Linked DNA regions of Homo sapiens. The protein of the gene in region 1 interacts with the protein of each later gene in a pairwise test. Each region holds a gene or a part of one and is shown on either strand. Other genes may lie near its edges.

Region 1 (5,967 bases):
CCTGATTAGAAAGCTTCATGGCCTGGCTGGACAGGAGGGGGCTGTGTACAGTGGGAGGAGGCCAGGGCAGGTATGTCTGGTGGTGGGCGCAGCAGAGACAGGCTGGGTCACGGGGGACAGATGGGGACAGGGCCTGAGTGGGGCTCCCCACTGCCCTGCTCAGAGGGTACCGTCAAGGGTGGCAGCTCACCCCTGCTGGGCTGGCCTGGGTACTGAGCCCTGCCTTCTCAGGGGCTGGAGGCCTGCCACTCCTCGGCTGATTCCCGCAGATGCCACCCGGCTCAGCTGGGCCTGGTACCCAGAAGCCCTGCCGCGGCCTCCAGATGCAGGGAGGTGCCTACCTGCCAGTCTGTCTTGGGTGTGTCATTTGTCCATTTCTTTGGACATGTTCAGGCAGTCAGTGAGCCTAGACCCTGGTGCCTGCCAGGCGGTGGGCGCACTCAGGCCTTTTACCTGCCCAGCCCCCAGAAGCCTGAGGCAGCACGCCAGGGGCCTGGGGCCTTCCATGGGGACTGCAAGGCTGCAGACCCCTGCCTTTCTGGCTGCGACATGGGAGGCCTGGCTGGGTCACTTCCCCTCCTCTCAGGGTGGTCTTCAAGGTTTGCGGGAGGCTAGAGAGACATCAGTGCTACAGTGCAGCCTTGGGCCCCTCGGGAGGGAAGCCTCCCCCAGTTGGGGGCCAATGGGCCTTCCACCCATGGGGCCTCCTGCCAGAGGTCTTTTCTGGAAAGGGGTTCTGCCTTGGGCCAGCCCTGGGGAATGTGGCAGGTCAGGTGAAAGGTCAGCAAGCTGTCTCAGAGCTGAGCCTTGCAACTGACCTCTCCAGGCTTGAGAGAGGCCCAGAAGCCAGGGACCTGCTAACATTTTATTGTGGAAAGATGTGAAGTTTACAGAAAAGTTGCACAAATACTCCAATGAACTCCAGGAGTCCATCCACCTAGTCTTGCCAACTGCCAACATTTTGCTACATTGCTGAATCCTCTATCTGAATGCTGAAATCATTTGAGAGTAAGTTGCAGAAGTCATGTTCCTTTGCCCCTAAATTCTTCCTAAGAACAAGGACATTCTCTTAACACACCAGAGTCAGCTATCAAAACCAGGAAGTGAGCACTGAGGCAGTCCTAAGCCACACCCTGTTCAAACTTCACCAACGGACCTGAGTCTCCGATCACAGGCCTGTCCCTCCCCGTCCAGGAACATTGAGCTGTCTCCTTAGTCTCTGATCTGGAACCTTTCGGCCTTTCTTTGTTTTTCCTAACTTTGACATTTGGGAAGGCCCATTTACTTTAAGACTGACCCTGAGTCTGGGTTGGCTGATGTTTCTGCGTGGTTTGCCCTAGATGGACACAACTGGCCAGAAAACCCTGGAAGGACCTCTGTGTCTTCTCGAGCATCCGCCTCTCTGGGTGCTGGTGAACCTATGAGGAGGGCAAGTGTCTGGCTTGACTCTTGCCCCAGCGCTCAGGGATGGAACCCGCAGGGACAAAAGGTGCCCTAGGGTCGCCGGCTGGCCGGCAGGGTCTGTTCACAGAACGGCAGCCTCCCTGCACTGTTTCTGGGCAGCACAACCGCTCCTGCAACTGTCCAAGGCCTTCAGCCCACCTGTGCTCACCACCACGGCACCTTATCCCCAAGCCTTGGCTTTCTTGTCTCTGAAATGGGGATAAAAGCAGTTCCCACACCACAGAGTAGCTGGAGTCAAAGAGATGAGGTGTTGGGACATCCCCAAGCTCATCCAGGGAACCGGCTTGAGGGTCGAGTGTCCCTGGATCACAGTCTCTATCCCAGTTGAGATTAGAGCATGGGGCCGGCCGCAGTGGCTCACACCTGTAATCGCAGCACTTTGGGAGGCCGACACGGGTGTATCACCTGAGGTCAGGAGTTCAAAATCAGCCTGGCCAACATGGCAAACCCCGTCTCAACTAAAAATACAAAAATTAGCTGGGTGTAGTGGCAGGTGCCTGTAGTCCCAGCTACTCCGCAGGCTGAGGCAGGAGAATCGCTTGCTTGAACCCGGGAGGCGGAGGCTGCAGTGAGCCGAGATTGTACCACTTCACTCCAGCCTGGGCACAGAGCAAGACTCTGTTTCAAAAAGAGAGAGAGAGAGATTAGGACATGGGCAGGCCTGCCCTGCTAACACTGTGATGTCAGATGGTCTGGCTGGGCTGGAGAGGCCAAGAGCCGACCTACCATCCCCATGTTGAGCTTTCCAGCGTTTCTGGGGCATCCTGTCTGGTTGCCGGGGATGGATGGCCCAGGGTTGGAGTGGTGGTCAGGGGAGGACAACTGGGGTGGGCTGGCTGGTGAGGATACAGGGCGGGGGTTATCATGCAGGCGTCTCAGCCTGTGCTTTCTGTGGGACTGAGAATGTCTCCTTTCTGCTCTCTGGTCCCTGGGTACCCCAAATCCTGCCAACTCCCAACCCTATAAGCAGAGAAGGGCTTTGTGGGGGGCACCTCCCTTACACTGAACAGACACTCCTCCTGCCCACCCACCGGCCCTGCCCAATGGGAGGCAGCAACGCACTGGCTTCAGCTTCTTAGCCTGGGAAATGTGAGGGCTAGTGCAGCGCTGAGCCCAGACCCCTCACACAGCGCTACCGGCAACTTGCTTAACCTAGAGGTGGGGGGTGACGTCCCTGTCGGCCCCGTCACCTGGGGCCCCAGCACCTCTCCTTGGCTTTGCAGACGATGTTCCACAGGAGCCCGTGCCCACGCTGTGGAACGAGCCGGCCGAGCTGCCGTCGGGAGAAGGCCCCGTGGAGAGCACCAGCCCCGGCCGGGAGCCCGTGGACACCGGTCCCCCAGCCCCCACCGTCGCGCCAGGACCCGAGGACAGCACCGCGCAGGAGCGGCTGGACCAGGGCGGCGGTACGGGCGGGGCGGGGGAGGGAGGGGAGAGGGAGAAATTAGGAGGGGCGGGGGGCGGGGGGCGCGGGGAGAAGGGCCGGCCAGGCGGGGGCTAGCAGGTGACATGGTCCTCCGTCCTCCGCAGGGTCGCTGGGGCCCGGCGCTATCGCGGCCATCGTGATCGCCGCCCTGCTGGCCACCTGCGTGGTGCTGGCGCTCGTGGTCGTCGCGCTGAGAAAGTTTTCTGCCTCCTGAAGCGAATAAAGGGGCCGCGCCCGGCCGCGGCGCGACTCGGCTGCACTCCTCACGCGCCTGTATGTCCGCGCGTGCGTGTCCGCGCATGCAGGTGTGCCAGAGCGTGAGCGCGCGCAGGCGAGCGCTCAGGGCGGGGGTGCGCGCGGGGCCGAGGGTGGGTGCCGTGCACGCGCGCGGGTCCGGAGGCGCGCCCGAATTCCCCGCAGGGGCGCCGGGGCGTGCGTGAGCGCACAGCATGTCCGAGCCCGCCTGCGTGTGGCGTGCACCTGAGCGCGCGCAGGGCCGCGCGGCTCGGCGTCCCCGTGCACCACGGCTGGAGTGCCTCAGGAGCGCGCCGCATGTGCGTGCCCGGTGCGCGTGCGCCGGGGCCGCCAGGGCATCGGAGCGGGTGTGCGGCCAGCGGTCTTAGCCCGTCCGGGGGCACCGTCACGGTCAGGGCCACGCCACGGGCGGCCCCTTCTCCCGGCGCCGCCTCCTCTGCCTGGGCGCGGGCCGAGGCCCTCGCCGCGCTCCCCGGGGCCTGCCTCCCATCCCGCTCCGCTGGGGTTCAGAGCGTTCCGTGAGGAGGTAAGCGCTAGGGCAGGAGAGGCCGACAGAGACCCCGGGGCCCGCCGCTCCTTGAGGCCGGGGTTGGGGAGGGCAGGGGCCGTCGGCTCTCCCAGCCAGAGGCCGCGTGGTTTTGGGGGACGTCTTGACTCTGAGTCCTGCAGCCAGGGCCCCATCCGCGGGCTCAGACCAGCAGCCCCAAGCCCCCCTCTGCCCAGGGAGCCTCAGGAGCAGGATGAGTCGAGAGTCGACGCCGGACACGGCCCGCCCCTGCTTCCTACTCTCACCCCCAGGCCTGGCTGGGGGCCGGCAGCCCCCACGCCCACGGTTGGTTTGTTCAGGGAGAGAAAACGGCTTTCCCAGCTCTACTCACCTCACTTCACCCTCAGAGAGTCGGGGCGGAGTGAGGGTGAGGAGCCTGGTCCAGGGTCCCCACCTCGGAAGCATTTAGAGATGTAAACTTTGATCCTTTGATCATTTAACCTGCTCAGCACAGCAGGAAGTGGGAACTTGGTCCCTACCCCAGTCCCCAGGGCCTTTGGAGGGAAGGGTTGGACAGTTTGGAGGCCAGCAGACCCCTTGGGGACAGCTTAATGTATCTGAAGATTCCTGAGTGGGAATGTTGCTGGAGGGCAAGCTGCTTCTCTTTTTTAAAAATTCATTTTCTCTAGCAGCTGTTTTGGCCCCTTTGGTGTCCCTGAGCTCCCCATGGCACTGTTTCCTGCCGTGACTTTCTCCTCCTGGACACTGGAGCCCAGGTGGTGCCCGCGCACCTCTCACACACTGGGGGATAGGGTCAAGGCCTCATCCAAGTCTGTTAACAGCTTCCCACTCAACCAGTCTCCCCAAAATACACTGTGAGTTCAATGATTCTGCTTATAAAGGAGTGCTATGAAACTGACCTATTTTCCTAATTGGTTAACTGACTTCATCTCACATAACCTTGAGTAACCAAAGCCTTCATCAGAGCGGACGATCCAACCCAACATGCTGTTTCCCATCCTCAAAAGGCACGGGGACCAATGGCCACCCAACTCCTTCCCAACCCTCCCCTCCAGGGACGAGAGATGGCCCCCTCTTTCCCTTTCCCCACTCTGCAAGCACTCCCCCACCAACGGGTGCATCACAGCCCCTCACTGGGACCAGGGGGCCTCCCTCTCCGGTGGAACCAGTGTCACATGCCTGTGCATCTCTGTGATTCTCAGAGGGTCTGAGGTCCGAGCACCCTGCTGTGGCCTGTGGGAAGACGCTACAAAGTCCCACTGGATCTAAACCAGAGGCCTGTTCTGGCGAGCAGGGAAACTGTGTCCTGGCAGAGATCGTGGTCCTGGGCACACAGGACCCCTCAGCACACTGAGGTGGAGCTGGGGCGAGGGGAGGGGGTGCGCTCTGGGTAACTGAAGGTGTGAAGGGCCCAGGGCCTGTTTCTGGGCAGTGCAGGAAGTCCCAGCCCCATGCCTGTGGTGAGATCCCCTGTAGGGCCCCCCCCACCATGGACACTTCGGGGCCTCTACGGTCTTCCAAAGCTGTGTCCTCATTTCCACTGCAGCAGAGGGGCGTCCCCAGCTCCGTCAAACAGCCCTTTCTGTTTCTGGAGTCCTACAAGTGGAGGCCCAAATCCGTTCCCATGTTGAGGCAAGGCCCTGGCTGTTCCTTCCTCTCTGGAAACCGCCTTGAACTCTTCCTTTGGGACATGCCTCCTCGACCAGCCTTGAAGGGGTGCTCCTCTCTCACTACCTGGAACCAAACACCCCCTTCCTTTGTGTACAAGGGCAATAAAGAGTAGACCTTCATCTTCTTTATTTTATATATGATGCTTCTTTTAATGCAGCCAAAAGTGATATTTGCTTTTCTCAGAACCATAATCGATACAAGATGCAGTGACCAATTCATTCCTTAAAACACCTGGGCTCCTTAAGGGGCTAGAAGACACAAGTTACATCCAGCCCATCAGGGAGCCAGAGGCGGGAGGGGTCCCCAGCCAAGCTCTGGCAGGCCTGCCATGGGGCAGGGCCTGACCGTGCAGCCAGAGGCTGGCAGAGGCCTGGGGAAGGGTGGGCAGAGGCAGCTGGGCTCTCAGTCCTGGAACCGGAGACCAAGGGCTGCTCATCAAGCTCCGTCAGGCAAGGGCGGCCTCATCTGTGCCTGGTAGATTCTAACTGCTTCCAAGGTAGAGGAGGACGCGTGCAGGAAATCGTGTCAATTGTCACCTTCTGCCTGCCTCCCACAGGGACACTCTGGGTTGGGAGCCTCTTCCAGTCCCTGGGGGCCAGGGGCATGGGGGGCCCTGGAGTGTGCCCACCCCCTTCCACCCCCT
Region 2 (7,030 bases), on another chromosome or scaffold:
TGGCCAAACTTAAAACCCAGGCAGTATGTTGCCACAGTCTCCTCTAAACTAATGCAGAGGTAAAAACTTTGTGACATACAAGCCAGATGTAGCCTTCAGATATATTTTGCCTGGCCTGCACAGTGTTTTCTTAACATTTTGCATCAGTTCCCATTATTTAAAAGTCAGGAGAATAAGGCAGCTTTGACTTTCAACTCTGGCTGAACCAGTCCCTCCTGCCATCATCAGTTTAACAATCTTGTAACAAATTAGCAACCTGGGTTTTGGAAAGGTTAAATCAAATTTTCCTAAGGCCACACATTTAGTAATAGTGAAGAGTTGGAAATCCAGGCTGCCTGATACCAAGGCCATACCTTTTCCAACACAAATAAATTAACAAATTTGCATTTCAATATGTCTCAAAAAGTAACATTAAGGACCTAACTTCTTTCCAGGGATAAAACCTGATGTCTTTCTCCCTAACGTTACATTAGAGCTGAAACCAAAAGAGATGTTTTTGTCCTTTAATTCTTAGAGTTTGAATTCTGCCATTTACTAGCCTGGAGACCTGGGGCAAGTAACTTCACTCTCTCAACCTCAGTTGTCTCACATGTACCTTGCTTCTACAGTTGTTCATCCATATGACAAATGGTTGCTTAGCACTCAGTATATGCCAGGTATTACTGCTGTGAGGCTCAAATAACATGATGCCTGAAAAGCATGCATCACAGTTCACAACACATTATAAGAGCTCATTAGATAGTAACTTGTGATTAGTAAAGAAATAAAGGATTCTTCCTGACCCAGGAAAATAAGAAGCTTAGCTTTTTAGAGAGGAGGGAAAGTAACAGTATCCATTTTATTGGGGTGAAATTTATATAACATAAAATTAACCATTTTTAAGTGTTCGCCTCAGTGCCATTTAGCACTCACAATGTTGTGCAGCCATCACCTCTATGTAGTTCCAAAATGTTTTTGTTATCCCATAAAGAAACCTCATAAGCATTAAGCAGTCACTCCCTGTTCCCTCTTCCCCCAAGTCCTAGCCAATTATTAATCTGCATTCTGTCTCTATGGATTTACCTATTATGGATGTTCCATATAAATAGAATCATAAAATATGTGTTCTTTTGTGTCTGACTTCTTCCAATTAACAAAATGTTTTTGAAATTGGTCCACATTATATTATGTAACAGTAATTTATCCCTTTTAATGGCTGAATAATAGTCTATTGTGTGTGTGTGTGTGTGTGTGTGTGTGTGTGTGTGTGTGTATATATATATATATATATATATATATATATATATATACCAGTTTGTTATCCATTCATCCATTAATGGCCATTTGGGCTATTTCTACCTTTTGTCTCTTCTGAATAGTGCTGTTACAAACATTCATGTATTTGTTTGAATATCTGTCTTCAATTATTTTGAGTATATACACCAGGGAGATGGATGGGGATAATTGGACTGTATGGTAATTCTATGTTTAACTTTCTGAGGAACCTCCAAACTATCTTCCGCAGTGACTGCACCATTTTACATTCCCATCAAGCAGCACAGAAGGGTTCCAATTTGTCCACATTCTCACCAAGACTTGTTATTTTCAGTTTTATTTTTATTATAGCCATCTTACTGGGTGTGAAGGGGTATCTCATTATGGATTTGATTTGTATTTCCATAATGAAAAAAATATTGAGTATCTTTTTATGTACTTGTTTGCCATCCATATATCTTCTTTGGGAAAATGTCTATTCAAGCCATTGTCCATTTTTTAAATGGGATTTTTAAATTGGGTTGTCTTTTTGTTGTTGAATTTTAATATTTTTTGCATGTTCTGAATACTTGATCTTTATCAGATACGTTATTTGCAAACATTTTCCCCCATACTTGATAGTATCATTTTATACACAAAGATTTTTAATTTTAATAAAATTCAATTTATCTATTTTTTCTTTTGTTGCCTATGCTTTTGGTGTCATATTTAAGAATCCATTACCAAATGCAAGAGCATAAAGATTTACCCCTGTGGGATTTTTTTGTTTGGTTGGTTGGTTGGTTGGTTTTGGTTTTTTGTTTGTTTGTTTGTTTTTTGTTTTTTTTTGTTTTTGTTTTTGATACGGGACCTCACTATGTTGCCCAGGCTGATCTCAAACTCCTGGGCTCAAGTGATCCTCCCACCTTAGCCTCTCAAATAGCTGGGGCTACAGGCGTGTGCCCTGTGTTTTCTTATAATAATTTTATACTTTTAGCTCTCACCTTTAGGTATTTTAGCCATTCTGAGTTAATTTTTTATATCTGGCATAAGATACGAGTCCAGCTTTTTTTTAAAATTTTATTATTATTATACTTTAAGTTTTAGGGTACGTGTGCACAACATGCAGGTTTGTTACATATGTATACATGTGCCATGTTGGTGTGCTGCACCCATTAACTCCTCATTTAACCTTAGGTATTTCTCCTAATGCTATCCCTCCCCCCTCCCCCCACCCCACGACAGGCCCCCGTGTGTGATGTTCCCCACCATGTGTCCAAGTGTTCTCATTGTTCAATTCGCACCTATGACTGAGAACATGCAGTGTTTGGTTTTCTGTCCTTGCGATAGTTTGCTGAGAATGATGGTTTCCAGCTTCATCCATGTCCCTACAAAGGACATGAACTCATCCTTTTTTATGGATGCATAGTATTCCATGGTGTATATGTGCCACATTTTCTTAATCCAGTCTATCATTGATGGGCATTTGGGTTGGTTCCAAGTCTTTGCTATTGTGAATAGTGCCGCAATAAACATACTTGTGCATGTGTCTTTATAGTAACATGATTTATAATCCTTTGGGTATATTCCCAGTAATGGGATCTCTGGGTCAATTAGTATTTCTAGTTCTAGATCCTTGAGGAATCACCACACTGTCTGCCACAATGGTTGAACTAGTTTACACTCCCACCAACAGTATAAAAGTGTTCCTATTTCTCCACATCTTCTCCAGCACCTGTTGTTTCCTGACTTTTTAATGATCGCCATTCTAACTGGTGTGAGATGGTATCTCATTGTGGTTTTGATTTGCATTTCTCTGATGGCCAGTGATGATGAGCATTTTTTCATGTATCTTTTGGCTGCATAAATGTCTTCTTTTGAGAAATGTCTGTTCATATCCTTTGCCCACTTTTTGATGGAGTTGTTTGATTTTTTCTTGTAAATTTGTTTGAGTTCTTTGTAGATTCTGGATATTAGCCCTTTGTCAGATGTGTAGATTGTAAAAATTTTCTCCCATTCTGTAGGTTGCCTGTTCACTCTGATGGTAGTTTCTTTTGCTGTGCAGAAGCTCTTTAGTTTAATTAGATCCCATTTGTCTATTTTGGCTTTTCTTGCCATTACTTTTGGTGTTTTAGTCATGAGGTCCTTGCCCATGCCTATGTCCTGAATCGTATTGCCTGGGTTTTCTTGTAGGGTTTTTAAGGTTTTAGGTCTAACATTTAAGTCTTTAATCCATCTTGAATTAATTTTTGTATAAGGTGTAAGGAAGGGATCCAGTTTCAGCTTTCTACATCTGGCTAGCCAGTTTTCCCAGCACCATTTATTAAATAGGGAATCCTTTCCCCATTTCTTGTTTTTGTCAGGTTTGACAAAGAGCAGATGGTTATAGATATGTGGTATTATTTCTGAGGGCTCTGTTCTGTTCCATTGGTCTATATATCTTTTTTGGTACCAGTACTATACTGTTTTGGTTACTGTAGCCTTGTAGTATAGTTTGAAGTCAGGTAGCATGATGCCTCCAGCTTTGTTCTTTTGGCTTAGGATTGTCTTGGCAATGCAGGCTCTTTTTTTGGTTCCACATGAACTTTAAAGTAGCCTTTTCCAATTCTGTGAAGAAAGTCATTGGTAGCTCGATGGGGATGGCATTGAATCTATAAATTACCTTGGGCAGTATGGCCATTTTCATGATATTGATTCTTCCTATCCATGAGCATGGAATATTCTTCCATTTGTTTGTGTCCTCTTTTATTTAATTGAGCAGTGGTTTGTAGTTCTCCTTGAAGAGGTCCTTCACATCCCTTGTAAGTTGGATTCCTAGGTATTTTATTCTCTTTGAAGCAATTGTGAATGGGAGTTCACTCATGATTTGGCTCTCTGTTTGTCTGTTATTGGTGTATACGAATGCTTGTGATTTTTGCACATTGATTTGGTATCCTGAGACTTTGCTGAAGTTGCTTATCAGCTTAAGGAGATTTTGGCCTGAGATGATGGGGTTTTCTAAATATACAATCATATCATCTGCAAACAGGGACAATTTGACTTCCTTTTTTCCTAATTGAATACCCTTTATTTCTTTCTCCTGCCTGATTGCCCTGGCCAGAACTTCCAATATGTTGTTGAATAGGAGTGGTGAGAGAGGGCATCCCTGTCTTGTGCCAGTTTTCAAAGGGAATGCTTCCAGTTTTTGCCCATTCGGTAGGATATTGGCTGTGGGTTTGTCATAAATAGCTCTTACTATTTTGAGATACATTCCATCAATACCTAGTTTATTGAGAGTTTTTAGAATGAAGGGCTGTTGAACTTTTTCAAAGGCCTTTTCTGTGTCTATTAAGATAATCATGTGGTTTTTGTCTTTGGTTCTGTTTATATGATGGACTACGTTTATTGATTTGCATATGTTGAACCAGCCTTGCATCCCAGGGATGAAGCCAACTGGATCTTGGTGGATAAGCTTTTTGATGTGCTTCTGGATTCGGTTTGCCAGTATTTTATTGAGGATTTTGCATCAATGTTCATCAGGGATATTGGTCTAAAATTCTCTCTCTTTTTTTTCTTTGTTGTGTCTCTGCCAGGCTTTGGTATCAGGATGATGTTGGCCTCATAAAATGAGTTAGGGAGGATTCCCTCTTTTACTATTTATTGGAGTAGTTTCAGAAGAAATGGTACCAGCTCCCCTTTGTACCTCTGGTAGAATTCGGGTATGAATCCATCTGGTCCTGGACTTTTTTTGGTTGGTAGACTATTAATTATTGCCTCAATTTCAGAGCCTGTTATTGGTCTATTCAGGAATTCAACTTCTTCCTGATTTAGTCTTGGGATGGTGTATGTGTCCAGGAATTCATCCATTTCTTCTAGATTTTCTAGTTTATTTGCATAGAGATGTTTATAGTATTCTCTGAAGGTAGTTTGTATTTCTGTGGGATCAGTGGTGATATCCCCTTTATCATTTTTTTATTGCGTCTATTTGATTCTTCTCTCTTTTCTTCTTTATTAGTCTTGCTGCTGCCTCACAATTCTATCTCGGACTGCTGTACTAGCAGTGAGCAAGGCTCCATGGGCGTGAGACCCACCGAGCCTTGCATGGGATATAATCTCCTGGTGTTCCATTTGCTAAGACCATTGGAAAAGCACAGTATTAGGGCGGGAGTGTCCCGATTTTCCAGGTGCAATCTGTCATAGTTTCCCATGGCCAGGAAAGGGAATTGCCAGACCCCTTGTGCTTCCTGGGTGAGGTGATGCCCCGCCCCGCTTCGGCTCACACTCCATGGGCTGCACCCACTGTCCAACCAGTCCCAGTGAGATGAACCTCGTACCTCAGCTGGAAATGCAGAAGTCACCTGTCTTCTGTGTTGCTCACGCTGGGAGCTGTAGACTGCAGCTGTTCCTATTCAGCCATCTTGGAATGATCCTGTTGAATACCAGCTTAATTTAATAGTATACAAAACCCAGCCGTTTACAGCTCTGTTGCCCCCTTTATGCTATTATCACAAATTACATCTTTATACATTGTATACTCCTTAACGTAGATTTATCATTGTTGTTTTATGCATTTTTTCCTTTAAATTAGATAGTAAAAAGAGTTAAAAAAAACGTAAAACTCAATATTACTTGCTTTTGTAGCTACCTGTATAGTTTACCAGTGTTCTTATTTTTTTGTATAGCGTGGGTTACAGTGAGTGCCTTTTCAGTTTTTCTAAAGAATGCCCTTTGGCATTTCTTGAAGGGCAATTCTACTAGTGATCAGCTCCCTCAGTTTTTGTTTATCTGAGAATGTCTTGTTTTCGCTTTCATTCTTTGAAGTATAGTGTTGCTGGACATAGAGTTCTGTATATGTGTTGACAGATGTTTTTCTTTTTCTTTCAGCAATTTAAATATCACATTTCACTGCCTTCTAGCCTCTGTGGGTTCTTAAGAGAAATCAGCTGTTAGTCTTATTGTTTTTTTTTTGTTATGTAAAAAGTCAATTTTCCTGCTTTCAAGATTTTCTTTTTGTTTTTTGGCAATTTGACTATAATGTGTCTGATTGTGGATATCTTTTAGTTTATTCTATTTGGAGTTCATTGCACTTCTTGGATGTTTAGATTCATATTTTTTACCAAATGTATGAAGTTTTTTAGCCATCATTTTTTCAAATACTCTTTCTGTTTTTCCTCTCTTTCCTCTCACTTTGGAAGCCCCGTTATGTGTATATTAGTATGTTAGGATATAGGCTGTATATTAGAGTGTAGGCTCTATTATTGTATATAGTAGAGTGTAGGCGGCTGTCCTCACAGCCTCTACTGATCTGGGATGTGGAGGATGGTAGGCAGCCACTTTAAAATGTCACAGTATCCTCTTACTACAAAGCATCAGTTCTTTTCTTCACCAAGTCTTCCTCTCTGGTTATTGTAACAATTTTACTAGATTCCAGAGTTCTGCAAAAGTTTATTCTGACAGTTTTTGCCAGCTCATTAGTTGCTTTTGAGGAGGGATGTAAGTCTGGAGTACTCTTAGTTTTGGTGCCCAATAGTATCCATTCTGAGATTAAAAAATAAAAATAGCTATGATATAATTCTACTTGAAAGGTAGAAATTTTCCGAAGAGACATGAAGTCCTTGCCCACGCCTATGTCCTGAATGGTAATGCCTAGGTTTTCTTCTAGGGTTTTTATGGTTTTAGGTCTAACGTTTAAATCTTTAATCCATCTTGAATTGATTTTGTATAAGGTGTAAGGAAGGGATCCAGTTTCAGCTTTCTACATATGGCTAGCCAGTTTTCCCAGCACCATTTATTAAATAGGGAATCCTTTCCCCATTGC
Region 3 (7,030 bases), on another chromosome or scaffold:
TTTAAGAAAAATAAAGCAAGTACCTCATGTTGCTTCCCCAAATCTACTTCATTGGAGAATTACAGCTAAAAACAATGTTCAGATTTTTGCTCCTTCTGTCATGTGGTCCCTTGAGAATTTGCCAAATGTATAAATCCAGTGACTTATTTTGATGTACTCTTTTGGTTTGAGGTCTGTGACAGCAAACATAACCTCCTTGAATCCCAGCCTCAAATGCCTATGGACCTTCTGTTCTAACTGTTATTATAACTGTAGCCGTTATTATAGTGGCTAAAGTTCTAACTTCTGTTCTAACTGTGCTCCTGGTTCCATGACAAAGAGAGCTTTACTTGTCTTATTCCTAGCACAGTGCCCATAGCAGGCATACATAAAATGTGGTATGTCAGATAAACATCTGAAAAAGTGTGAGATGTCATTAGACGTTCATTCAGCTACAAGAACAGAAAACCCTACTACAGCGGCTTAAACAAGTAAGGAGTTTGTTTTTCTCAGAGAACGAGAAGTCTGGAGGTGAGAAGGCTGGGGCTGGGAAAGGGGTTCCGATATGAACGTCATCTGAGACAGGCTCCTTGTGTCTTCCCGCACCACCCTCCTTAGCATGGAGCTTTCATACTCACTTCCGCAAGTTGCAGCAGAAAGACGGGCAGAGGCATGCTCCAGAAGAGTCTTGTCTTGTCTTTTCTTTTCTTTTCTTTTCTCTCTTCTTTTCTTTTCTCTCTCTCTCTCTCTGTCTCATCTCTTTCTTTCTTTTGACTCAGAGTCTCTCTCAGTGGCACAATCTCGGCTCACTGCAACCTCCGCTTCCTGGGTTCAAGTGATTCTCCTGCCTCAGCCTCCAAGTAGCTGGGATTACAGACGTGCACCACCACGCCCAGCTAATTTTTGTATTTTTAGTAGAGACGGGGTTTCACCATGTTGGTCAGGCTGGTCTTGAACTCCTGACCCTGTGATCTGCCCCCCTCGGCCTCCCAAAGTGCTGGGATTACAGATGTGAGCCACCACGCCTGGCCTGTCCTTCTTTATAATAAATAATAATAATAACAGCTTTTCTGGTAGCCCACCCCAAAAGACTTCTTACATGTCATTGGCCAGAACCATATCACATACACACTGTTAACGGTGACGGAACCAGAGAGAATCTAGTGTTTGAGACAGACACGTTGCCAATACATCAAAATAAGAATTTTGGGCCAGACACAGTGGCTCACGCCTGTAATTCCAGCATTTTGGGAGGTCAAGGCGGGTGGATCACCTGAGGTCAGGAGTTCAAGACCAGCCTGGCCAACATGGTGAAACCCCATCTCTACTAAAAACACAAAAAATCAGCCGGGCGTGCTAGCAGGCGCCTATAGTCCCAGCTACTCAGGAGGCTGAGGCAGGAGAATCGCTTGAACCCAGGAGGCAGAGGTTGCAGTGAGCCGAGATCATGCCACTTGCACTCCAGCCTGGACAACAAGAGCGAAACTCCATCTCAAAAAAATAATAATAACAACAAAATAGGAATTTTGTTAATAAGGCGGGGGGAGAATGAACATTGGGTAGGCAGCTAGCAGCATCTGCCATAGTGTGTTTTATGAGTCATAGATCCTGTCTCTAAATAGGTTGTTATTTGTTTTGGTTTTTTGTTTGTTTTACTAAAAAGCAATGGGTAATGCAGTGGGTCCAGGGGAACTTTTTTAAATGGTAGAGTGCAAGGACCACTCTGAGAACTGCTGATTATGTAGGTCTGGGCTGGGTCTATAATTCTCCATTATGGACGGGCACGCCAGGTCATCTGAGGGCAGGTGGTTGCGGGAATACATTTTGAGAAACACCGAATGTCAGGTAGTTTAGCAAAAGCGACTTTATTTTATTTCTGTTAGCTTTTTGCCTCACTCCTCTTGAGGGTATACTTTATTTTTTAATTATCTGCTTTGGTCAACATAAATCAATGTATAGTCTTAGAAGTCGTTCATTGTAGAAGGTTTTCATTGAGTTTATACTGAGTATAGAACCCTAGCGGCAATTACTTTCAATGCTTTGGGTTGTGTTTTTCTGATATTACCATATTCTAAATAGCATGCAGATACGGGCCATTTCTTCTTCTCTTTTCCAGTTCTGGATGACATCTATTGACATCCTACCAAGAAGGATGAGGGTTTCGCTCCTTTACACCCCCACCCTCCCTCTCACCTTCACATCCCTTTCTTTTAAGTTCCCAGTACGGTTATATCCTAAATTTTTGATATGTCAATGTTTGGTGTATATATTATTCCCAACTAAGGCACATGATACACCATGATCTTTACATTTCCCTTCTTGACCAGTCTTTCCCCCAACCCCCTGGAATGGGGTGTAGGAGTTGCTACATTTTCTTTAGTTGTTTGAGAACTCATCACCAAGAAGTCATTTCCTGGAGCCAAGGAAACTCATGGGGGCCCTCTGAGTGCTGCTAATTGCATGGAGCTGTTGAGTGGGGAGGAAACGCCAGGCCGCCATCAAGAAGCATTTGGGGTAAATTTTCCAAGCACATCTGAAAAGACAGAGTCTAGAACCTCCACGGTCCCTGTCTGTTGTGATTTATTTTCTCATTCTAAATACACACACACTTTTTTTTTCTGTCTAGGCCATCTCTTGTGGAATACATATGTACTTTCATACCCAATTATGTACAGTTTTTGTAATTTTACGCCTTTTTCTTAAAGAAGGCTCCCAAAAGTGTATAAGATTCAGGCCCCATAAGATGCGGTTGCTTTTTGAGCTTGTGCCCATTTGAGATGTCACTTTTCTTCCTTCACACTTGCTTGCTGGTTTGGCTGGGTATGGGATATTAATCAGAAATCATTTCCCGTACGAATTTTGAAAACATTGCTCTATTTTATTCTACTTTCTTACGGTGCTGTTGAGAGGCTGATGCCATTCTAATTCCTGATCCCTTGTATTTTGTTCTAATCTCTGGGCATTTGTAGGGTTTTCTTTATTGTTCATATTCTGATATTTCATGATGTTGTTATTTAATGTTGGGGTGGGTTTTTTGGCGGGGTGGGGGGAATACAGGGAGGTATCCGTCACTGTCCTAAGTATTTTCTAGGCCTTTTCAATCCAAAAAGTACATTCTTCAGTTCTGAGTGGTTTTCTTCTGTTATATAATTTCCTCGTTCTTTCTTTCTGAAACTTAAATTACTTAGACTGAATCTGAAAATGGGATCTCTTGGATCTGTCTTGTAATTTTATCTTTTTTATTTTAAAAAATATCCCATGTTTTTTTAGTTCTAATAAATCTTCCAACAATGCTATTAAATGTTTACATTCTACCATTATATTTTTAATTCTCAGGAGCTTTTATTGGCGAGAGGTGTGGTCTTCTGAATGGTTTTTACAGTATCCTGTTCTCATTTCATGAACGCAGCATCTTCTCTTCTTTCTCCAAGCATATTAACTCAGTACTTTTTCTACATTTTAGAAGTTTTCTTCAGCTACCTACAATGTCTGTGTCTATTTTTAAAGTGACGTTTAATGTTGCTTTTGGCCTGCCTTTCACGTTGGAAGCTTTATACATGTTTGGGGATGGTGTGCGTCATCTGTGAGCATGGCTTGTAGGTTGGCTGGCTTCATTGCAGGGTGGTTAAGCAGAGAAGGCCTTTTTGATGGCTTATCATCATCTGTCTCTAGTGCTTTCTAGTACATATAATGGGTTTCTCTGTAGAAAGATCTCATTTCTAGCCATTTATTCCTGTTTGAGAAAAGTCACATAATAACTTAGATGTATTTATTATGTCATCTGCTTAATAGCGGAGGTTCTTGTTGTAAGGTGGACAGGTGGAGGTCTAGGATTCAAAATGGGAAATGTGTCCTTGACTCCGCCTGCACTTTGAAGTTGCTGATGTTCTCCATGTTTTATTTTCTATTGAAAAAGCTCTGAGATACTAGGGAATGAAAACTCTTTGACTACATGTACAACTAATTTACTTTTTGATAACCATTTGCAAAATATGGATTATATTGGGAAAACATTTTTCTTTTTTTTTTTTTTTTTGAGACAGAGTCTCACTCTGTGGCCCAGGCTGGAGTGCAGTGGCGCGATCTCAGCTCACTGCAAGCTCCGCCTCCCGAGTTCAAGCCATTCTCCTACCTCAGCCTCCTGAGTAGCTGGGATTACAGGCGCCCACCACCATGCCCAGCTAATTTTTGTATTTTTAGTAGAGACAGGGTTTCACCATGTTGGTCAGGCTGGTCTCGAACCCCTGACCTTGTGATCCACCCACCTCGGCCTCCCAAAGTGCTGGGATTACAGGCATGAGCCACCACACCCAGCCTGGGAAAATATTTTTCTAATATCTCTAGAATTTGGGACAGAATTTCTGTCCTTGAAGGTCACCCTCCAAATCCATGCAATTTTTCCCTTCTGCAGCCCCACAGTGATCATCAAAACTTGGAGCAGATTCATGTTTTTTATTTTTTTCCTGGGAAAGTTTTAGATCACGTGAAGGGAACAGATACTACGTTTGATAGGAATCGTTCCTGCTTTAGCTTCTTAAGGCCTCTCACTTGGAAAGCCTGCCCATTAGACCCTGATTTTTTGCTGTTAGCTTTTCCTTCTTAGGCGACTTCAACAAAGACTGCAAACTCCCTGACAGCACAGGCCCAGGCTTGTCACCCCTGCAACTCCATCTCCCAGAACAGTGCCTTATGCATAACAGGTACTTGATAAATGTTAGTTGACTTAAATTGACCCTATTATCTGTTTTAAACTAGCCCTTCCTACCTGTCCCCTTGCTATTTCCTCTGTTTCTGTTAAATCTTTTTATGTCACCACCTCTTGGATGATGCTACCTCATTCTCAAATCTGATGGTATGGAATAGCTATAAGAAAACAAACTTGAAAGATCTCTAACTACTAGGACTCTAAGTAGAATTTCCTGGATTGAAAACTCCCCATATCACCCTACTAAATATCTAATTATTTCTTAGGTTATCACCAACCACCCTGCATCGAGTCCCTCCTGAGCCACAGTTCAGTTTGGATTATTTTTTTCCTCATGTTCCATCCCTTGACTGTAGTGCCCTTCCCTTCCTTCCAGTGTCTTTGATCGGCCTGCACTTTGATCCAGAGCTTCTCTTTGATCTGTTCTAATGGTCATTTTTCTGCCTCCTCCCCTACATTGATCTACAATCTGGCATATTTTATACATTATACAAAGCTCATTGTTGTGCTCATTTCAGAATACCTACCTGTCAATCACACAGACATCTTTTCAAACCTAACTCAGACCCACAATGAAAGTCCCTCTCTTCTGGCCATTACTGAGATAGCTCCTGCTTCGGTCTCACTGGGGCTGTTTATTTCTCTATGGGAGGCTCTAGAACAGTAACTAAACTACAGTGCAAAACAGTGATCTATAGATTACTGTTTCTCAATCGTCAGCACTAACAATAGAGTCTAAACTCCCAGGGACCTGGAGACTTGTCTGAGAACAGCCTGGCATAAGTGCAGTCTCTCTTAATACTAAAAAATATATGCTACCCCACAATATGTCTGTATCTGTTTTAAAATGAAAATCATTTTTCCAGAATCTTTAGGTGAAATTGATACTCCAGGATTATGTTCGTCTTGTGATTTCAGATATCATCTGGGGGGAAAGGATTCACACATATGCCAGTCTGTGAGACACAGTAGTAGAAATCAAGGGACTTACCTAGCTCTAAGAATTGTATGAAAATAGTAACGGTACCAACAATTTTACCAATGGCTAGATTTAGGAGATGGTGTTCTCTTGATTCAAGATGAAGGCTAAGCTGCATCAGTTCAGTTCAGTTTAAGAACTATTATTATGTATCAAGCTTGTGCTAGTTTTTGATGGAGATGATAAGGTCTCCACTCTTGAAGATTCTGTAGACTAATGGGCAAGACATATGTCACTATATAATTTTAATATAACATGGTAAGTGATAAAAAATCATGGTATGTATGAGGTCCTTTGAAAACACAGAGGTGAGGCGCTTAGCCCAGCCTGGAGATTCACAGAGGCTTCCTGGAGGAAATAAGGCCTAAATATGGAAACCAAGTAAGAGGAATGAAAAGGACGTGCAATTTAGAGGGGACAACATGAGCAAAGGGGACACTGTCAGGTTCATGGTGGGGAGAATTGGGAGGTGACACTGGAGAGGAGCCACATTCAGGTATACCCAATGCAAGGGGACGTGGACCCCTCCACAGGCTGCTGGTTAGCCAATGGAACATTTTCCATCCTCCAGTAGTGTAGTCAGATGTACACGGAAGGTGGATGACTGGCTGCGGGGTGGAAGAAGAATTCATGGACAGCAGGACTAGAGGCCTCGCAGTGTTTAGGAAAAAGACAATGAGAGACCAAATGAGATCATTGCTGCAGGCACAGAAGGGAAAGAGAAAATACCAGGATACTTGGGGAAGCGAATTTAGCAGAATTTTGATGTCTTTGGGGGCAATGGTGAGGGGAGAAGAGAGTCCAGAATGACTCCCAAGATTCTGGCTTTCTGGGTGACTGGACATTAAGCCATTAACTAAGTTTGGGATATGAGAAGAGAAGCCGATTTGGTGGGGAAAGAAGATGGTGAGTTCAGTCTTGGAAATACTGACTTGAGGTGTCTAAGAAACATCTATACGTTTATGTGCATGTCTGTCTGTTCAGCAGGTTGTTGGATCTATGAGTCTGAGACTTAGAGACAAGGCCAGAGCTGGAGATGAAGTTGTGGGAGTCACCATTGTGCAAGTGGTGATTAATCCATGGGTGTGCGTGAGAGTTCTTGCAAGGGGAAGAGGAAACGGAAGTAAGGGCTTATGCAAGGAGGACTGTTGAGTAAAGTGGAAGGCCCAGCCTCTGCCTGCTCACTAATGTCAGTGCTGAACAAGCCCACTGGTAGTGGATGCTGAGGGAAGGAAGGAAGGAGTCTGTCTGTAAGCTTGAGCACTTTTTCCAAGAGGTGGAGAAGGCAGAGAGCCCAAGCCTTGAAGAAATGTTCCTTAGTGGCCTGGCATCTTGGAAATTTGACTCCATGACTTTGGAGAGATCTT
Region 4 (7,030 bases), on another chromosome or scaffold:
CAGGCAGTTCTCACCTATCAGAAACAACTTAACTATCTTTGTTTATGTCACATTTTCAAGAGTGAGGCGTTCAAGATAAATTACTGTGATTATCTAATTTATGTTTAACTTAGGTTTTTGTTTTGTTTTGTTTTTTGAGAGGGAGTCTCTTTTGCCCACACTGGAGTGCAGTGTCGGCTCACTGCAACCTCTGCCTCCTGGGTTCAAGCGATGCTTATGCCTCAGCCTCCTAAGTAGCCGGGACTACAGGCATGTGCCACCATGCCTGGCTAATTTTTTGTATTTTTAGTAGAGACGGAGTTTCACCATGTTGGCCAGTCTGGTCTTGAACTCCTGACCTCAGGTAATCCGTCTGCCTCGGCCGCCCAAAGTGCTGGGATTACAGGTGTGAGCCACTGCGCCCAGCCCTACCTTAGGTTTTAAGTGGTAATAGTAAACTCATGCATTGAAAATATTTTATCTTTTCTACAGTTAAGAAATAGAAATAATTTCTGTGTTTAGCTACATATGATAAATGAGAAAATATGTTATAAAATAACTAGCAACCAAGCTGCCAGTATTATTTTTATGGTATCATAAGATGATATGGCTATATTATATGTAGATGTTTGAAAATTTGAAATGGAAAAATTCTGTTCTAGTTCTGTGGAATGTAATTCCTCATTAAGATCGGAGTTTGTCTATGTCATTTTTATGTCATTTTATGTCATTTTTAGCTATTATTAAAAAATGTTTTAATAATAGTATTTATATGTCATAAGGAATAGGTGTCATAGCTAGCCTGTGTCACTATATATAATAAAAGGTTAAACCTAATTTTGTTTCCCAAAGAAGATACTTCATTTTGACAATGTCTAAACTTTCAGAAAATTTATGCTAAAATTGGTAGCTACCGTATTATTCCGTTTTCATACTGCTATAAAGAACTACGCAAGACTGGGTAATTTATAAAGGAAAGAGGTTTAATCCACTCACAGTTCAGCATGGCTGGGGAGGCCTTAGGAAACGTACAATCATGGCGGAAGGCGAAGGGGAAACAAGGCACCTTCTTCACATCATGGCAGGAAGTAGTGCCGAGCAAAGGAGGAAGAGCCCCTTATAAAACCATCAGATATCATGAGAACTCACTCACTATCACCAGAACAGCATGGGGGATACCACACCCATAATCCAATTACCTCCACCTGGTCTTTCCCTTGGCACGAGATTATGGGGATTATAATTCAAGATGAGATTTCAGTGGGGACACAAAGCCTGACCAAATCAGCTATTCAAGTTGCTTTGAAATTTTCTTTTCTGACTAGATTTTGGTTTTCTTTTGTGAGAAAGGGTTTCACTCTGTTGCCCAGGCTGGAGTGCAGGTGGCATGATCTCTACCCACTCATTGCAGCCTTGACTTCACAAGCTCAAGCCATCCTCCCACCTCAACCTCTTGAGTAGCTGGTACTACAGGTGCACGCTACCACACCTGGCTCATTTTTTTGTATCTTATTTTAGAGACGGGGTTTTGCCATGTTGCCCAGGCTGGTCTTGAGCTCCTGAGCTTAAGCTATCCACTCACCTCAGCCTCCCAAAGTGCTGAAATTATAGGTGTGAGGCACTGTGAGTGGCCTAGATTTTGTTTCTCTGATGGTGCTGGTTCTTTCATTCTTCCTTTTTGGTCCTGTTATTTATCTTAATAGTGGGATACGTGGAAGGCTGAGGCAAGAGAATTGCTTGAGTCGTGGCACTACATTCCAGCCTAGGCAGCAGAGCGAAACCGTCTCAAAAAAAAAAAAAAAAAAAAAGGGATGTAAAAGTCAATATGTATATTAGGTCCTTGCTCAGTATTGAGCTCAATAAGAAGATGAACAACTCACATTTAAAAATTGGCAAAACAGGCCAGGTACGGTGTGGCTCATGCCTTTAATCCCACCGCTTTGGAAGGCTGAGGCAGGCAGATCACTTGAGGTTGGGAGTACGAAACTAGCCTGGCCAACATGGTGAAACCCCGTCTCTACTAAAAATGCAAAAATTAGCCGGGTGTGGTAGTGCACACTTGTATTCTCAGCTACTCAGGAGGCCAAGGCAGGAGAATCGCTTGAACCCAGGAGGCAGAGGTCACAGTAAGCTGAGATCGTGCCACTGCACTCCAGCCTGGGCAACAGAGTAAGACTCTGTCTTCAAAAAAAAAAAAAAATTGGCAAAACAGAAAAATGAACAAAATCTTATCCTTTGCAGCAATATGGATGCAGCTGGAGACCATTATCCTAAGGAGATTAACACAGAAACAGAAAACCAAATAACACATATTCTTACAACTGGGAGCTAAACATTGTGTATTCATGGACATGAAGATGGCAACAGTAGACACTGGGAACTGCTAAAGGGGAGGGAGGCAGGAGGTCAAGGGTTGAAGACTATTGGGTACTATCCTCACTACCTAGGTGGGAGGATCAGCCATATCCCAAACCTCAGCATCACACAATATACCCATATGACAAACCTGCACATTTACCTCCTCAACCTAAAATAAAAGTCGAAATTATATTAAAATATTTTAAAAAGGAAATTTGGGCACACACAAAGGGAGAACACCATGTGAAGATGGAGGCAGAGATTGGGGTGATAGACCTACAAGCTAAGGGACACCACAGCTTCTCCCTCAGATCCTCCAGAAAGAATCAACCATGCTGACACCTTGATTTTGGACTTCTCGCCACTAGAACTGTGAGTGAATACGTTTCTGTTGTTTTAAGCTAAAAAAGAAAACGAAAATGCAAGCACGAACACATTGTTCTCTGCAGTTTAGGGAATCCTAGTAGAGACTACTGCTCACATTTGTTCTCTCTTCTCTGCTTTAATGGCCACTACCTTAGTTTTATCTCAAACTATTTTCTTCCAGACCATTTCCATGGATTTTCAACAGGTTGTCTTGCCTTGTCTTCTTCCACTAGCCCTCTCTGCTATTCCTGTGGCCCTCTAATCCATCTTCCATCTGATACCAGAGTGACTTCATAGGTGAACAATTTCCTAGTTAGGCTAATATTCAAATATTTCAGTGGTTTCCTATTATGCACAGGTTAGATTCTTACTTACCTGTTGAATATCAGAGTTTGTCATCATACGGCACCTGCTCAGTTCTACAGCTCCCTTTCATTAAATTCTAACAATACTATGGTGCTTAGTTTCCCAGACACTTAATGCATGTCATATCTCCGTACCTTTGCCTATGCAGCTTCCTCTGCATGGAATGAAGCTCCTCCTCCCATATTCCCATGAACTTCTGTACTCTTCATCTTTCAGAAACCTATTTAAGTATCAAAACCTGTACAGTTTTTGCTCATGCCAGTAAAAAGTGAATAACTTGTACCTCTGCGTTGCTTCTGTATTATTGCTGATAGTACACAGTATTATGATCGTCTTTTATAGGTCTGTCTTCCATACTAAATGGCAAGCTCCTTTCTAACAGGGAGTGTGTTTTATAATTTTTGTATCTTCAGTACCTGTCCCACCACCTGATACATGTGAGTGAGGTATTACAATTTTAGAAGGTGCTGAAAGTTTTTTTCTTAAATATTTTAAGTAGTCTTCCTGTATTTTAACTTACACTGTCATTATTCATAAGCCATGAACAAAGACAAGTAAGTACAGACCTTGTAGGAATTATCTCAAATGCCAGTTTATTGGAGTACAAACTCAATTAGGCTAAAACTTACTGAGGTCTTGGTTTATGTAAGTCTCTGTTAAAGGGTAGGGAGTTAGGGATTTTTTGTTTAGTTGGGGAGGAGACAAATATTTACCTAACTATATAGTTTTAAGGCAGAATGCATTAATAGTTTGAATTGTGTTCTGTAGTTTTTACTGAGTGGGTTCCTACTTCATTCGTTTCTCCCAGCAATCCTATGAAGTTAGAAGACTCTTTACTTTTCTTTGTGCCTTGAAAATTCTGCGCTCAAGTGCTTGAGCTCCTGGCTTCTCATTCGTTAGGTCTCTGCTTAAAGGTTCTTTTTTCAGAAACCTTCCCTGACCCCTTACCTAAAATTGCAGCCACCCTACTGCTTTGCCCCAGGTTAGTTTTTCTCTTATGTCATCCTTTATTTCCTTTATAACAGTTACTATAGTCTGTGATCATCTTGTTTATTTGTTCACTTGTTTATAGTCTCTGTCCTCTGAAATATATACCCTATGAGAGAAGGGACCTTATCTATTAGCCTGTATCCCCACATAGTGCAGTTTGTGGAGTGTGGTAGGTACTAAGTAAATATTGTTGAACAAATGAGCTTACAGTTGTTATTCCTGCTTTACAGACAAAAGAAACCTGGTTCCAAGTATATGAAAATCTGGATTTATACCACAGATAAACTGAATTAGTTGTTTACTGAAGTCCTGTTATGTGCAAATTACTAAGCACTGGTTACATAGATATAAATAAGACAGCTACTGTATTTGCATTTAGCACAGTATCTCTACATAGTAGGTGTATTAGTCTGTTTTCACACTGCTATAAAGGTAACTACTCAAGAGGCCAGGTGCTGTGGCTCATGCCTGTAATCCCAGTACTTTGAGAGGCCAAGGTGGGCAGATCATGAGGTCAGGAGATCGAGACCATCCTGGTCAACATGGTGAAACCCCATCTGTACTAAAAATACAAAAAAATTAGCTGGGTTTGGTGATGCACACCTGTAATCCCAGCTACTCAGGAGGCTGAGGCAGGAGAATCACTTGAACCCCTGAGGTGGAGATTGCAGTGAGCCAAGATCATGCCACTGCACTCCAGCGTGGTGACAGAGTAAGACTCCATCTGGAAAAAAAAAAAAGATAATACCCAAGAATGGGTAATTTATAAAGGAAAGAGGTTTAGTTGACTCACAGTTCTGCATGGCTAGGTAGGCCTTAGGAAACTTACGGTCATGGTAGAAGGGAGCGCAGACACCTTCTTCACAAGGAGGCTGGAGAGAGAAGAGTGAGGAGTGAAAGGGCAAGAGCCCCTTATAAAACCAGATCTCATGCGAACAGCATGGGGAAAACCACTCCCATGATCCAATCACCTCCCACCAGTTTCCTCCCTCAACATGTGGAAATTATGGGGATTATAAGAGGTGAGATTTGGGTGGGGACACAGAGCCAAGCCATATTATTCCACCCCTGGCTCCTCCCAAATTTCACATTCATTTTGCATTTCAAAATCAATCATGCCTTCCCAACAGTCCTCCAGAGTCTTAATTCATTTCATCATTAACTCAAAAGTCCACAGTACAGAGTCTCATCTGAAACAAGGCAAGTCCCTTCCACCTATGAGCCAGTAAAATAAAACATAAGTTAGTTCCTTTTAAGATACAATGGCAGTACAGGCACTGGGTAAATACACCTATTCCAAATGGGCAAAATTGGCCAAAACAGAAGGGCCACAGGGCCCATGCAAGTCTGAAATCCAGTGGGGCAGTCATTAAATCATAAAGCTCCAAAATGTTCTCCTTGACCCCATGTCACATCTGGAGAACACTGATGCCAGGGGTAGGCTCCCATGGCCTTGGGCAGCTCCTTCAAGGGCTGGCATCGAGTGCCTGCGGCTTTTCCAGATGCATGGTGCAAGCTGTTGTTAGATATACCATTCTGGGGTCTGGAGCAGGTAGCCGCCTTCTCATGGCTCTGCCAGGCAGTGACACAGTGGGGACTCTGTGTGAGGGCTCCAACCCCACATTTCCCCTTTGCACTGCCCTAGCAGAGGTTCTCCATGAAGGCTCCACCCCTGCAGTAGACTTCTGCCTGGACATCCAGGTGTTTCCATACATCCTTTGAAATCTAGGGTGAAGTTCCCAAACCTCAATTCTAGACTTCTATGCACCCACAGGCCCAACACCACATGGAAGCCACCAAGGCTTGTGGCTTGCTCCCTCTGAAGCAGTGGCTCAAGCTGTATGTTGGCCCCTTTTAGCCATGGCTGGGACACAGGGCATCAAGTCCCAATACTGCACAAAGCAGCAAAGCCCTGGGCCTGGCCCACAAAACCATTTTTTCCTTCTAGGCCTCTGGGCCTGTGATGGAAGGGCCTGCTGTGAAGACCTCTGACATGTCCTGGAGACATTTTCCCCATTGTCTTGGCAATTAATATTTGGCTCCTTGTTACTTATGCAAATTTCTGCAGCCAGCTTGAATTTCTCCCCAGAAAATGGGTTTTTCTTTTTTTTGGGGGGGCGGGGGGAAGGAGGGGGACAGAGTCTCACACTGTCACCCAAGCTGGAGTGCAGTGACACAATCTCAGCTTGCTGCAACCTCCGCCTCCTGGGTTCAAGTGATTCTCCTGCCTCAGCCTCCCGAGTAGAACTACAGGTGTGCACCACCATGCCCAGCTAATTTTGTATTTTTAGTAGAGACGGGGTTTCACCATGTTGGCCAGGACGGTCTCGATGTCTTGACCTCATGATCTGCCCGCCTCAGCCTCCCAAAGTGCTAGGATTACAGGCATGGGCCACCAGCACCCAGCTGGGTTTTTCTTTTCTGTTGCATCATCAGACTGCAAATTTTCCAAACTTTTATGCTCTGCTTCCCTTTTAAACCTAAGTTCCGATTTCAGGTCATCTCTCTCTCAAGTTTCATCAGTCTCTTGGGCAGGGGCAAAATGCCACCAGTCTGTTTGCTAAAGCATAGCAAGAGTGACCTTTGCTCCATTTCCCAGTAAGTTCCTCATCTCCAGCTGAGACCACGTCAGCCTGGATGTTATTGTCCATATCACTGTCAGCATTTTGGTCAAAACCATTCAATAAGTCTCTAGGAAGTTCCAGACTTTCCCACATCTTACTGTCTTCTGAGCCCTCCAAAGTGTTCCAACCTCTGCCAGTTACCCAGTTCCAAAATTGCTTCCACATTTTCAGGTATCTTTATAGCAGTACCCAACTCTCTGTTGTAGCAATTTACTGTATTAGCTTTCACACTGCTATAAAAGAAATAAAAACATAAAATAAAAATACTACCCCAAACTGGGTAATTTATAAAAGAAATAAGTTTAATTGACTCACAGTTACGCATGACTAGGGAGGCCTCAGGAAAC

The links.
Region 2: the proteins of SNORC (region 1) and ZDHHC15 interact in binary tests that used the Homo sapiens proteins (3 or more experiments, as listed by UniProt).
Region 3: the proteins of SNORC (region 1) and TMEM45B interact in binary tests that used the Homo sapiens proteins (3 or more experiments, as listed by UniProt).
Region 4: the proteins of SNORC (region 1) and CISD2 interact in binary tests that used the Homo sapiens proteins (3 or more experiments, as listed by UniProt).

What each region holds. Positions count from the first base shown.
Region 1 is NC_000002.12:232,873,253-232,879,219, forward strand, and holds the end of SNORC (protein SNORC isoform c precursor), read left to right. Parts: intron 1-2,202; exon of another isoform or gene 2,203-2,245; coding exon of another isoform or gene 2,246-2,303; intron 2,304-2,341; exon of another isoform or gene 2,342-2,553; intron 2,554-2,579; exon of another isoform or gene 2,580-2,687; coding exon 2,688-2,870; intron 2,871-2,994; coding exon 2,995-3,104; 3' UTR 3,105-5,448; downstream 5,449-5,967. UniProt on the Homo sapiens protein: Plays a role in the regulation of chondrocyte maturation and postnatal endochondral ossification. May inhibit cell growth stimulation induced by FGF2.
Region 2 is NC_000023.11:75,513,029-75,520,058, reverse strand, and holds part of ZDHHC15 (palmitoyltransferase ZDHHC15), read left to right. Parts: intron 1-7,030. UniProt on the Homo sapiens protein: Palmitoyltransferase that catalyzes the addition of palmitate onto various protein substrates.
Region 3 is NC_000011.10:129,818,844-129,825,873, forward strand, and holds part of TMEM45B (transmembrane protein 45B), read left to right. Parts: intron 1-7,030.
Region 4 is NC_000004.12:102,871,963-102,878,992, forward strand, and holds part of CISD2 (CDGSH iron-sulfur domain-containing protein 2), read left to right. Parts: intron 1-7,030. UniProt on the Homo sapiens protein: Regulator of autophagy that contributes to antagonize BECN1-mediated cellular autophagy at the endoplasmic reticulum.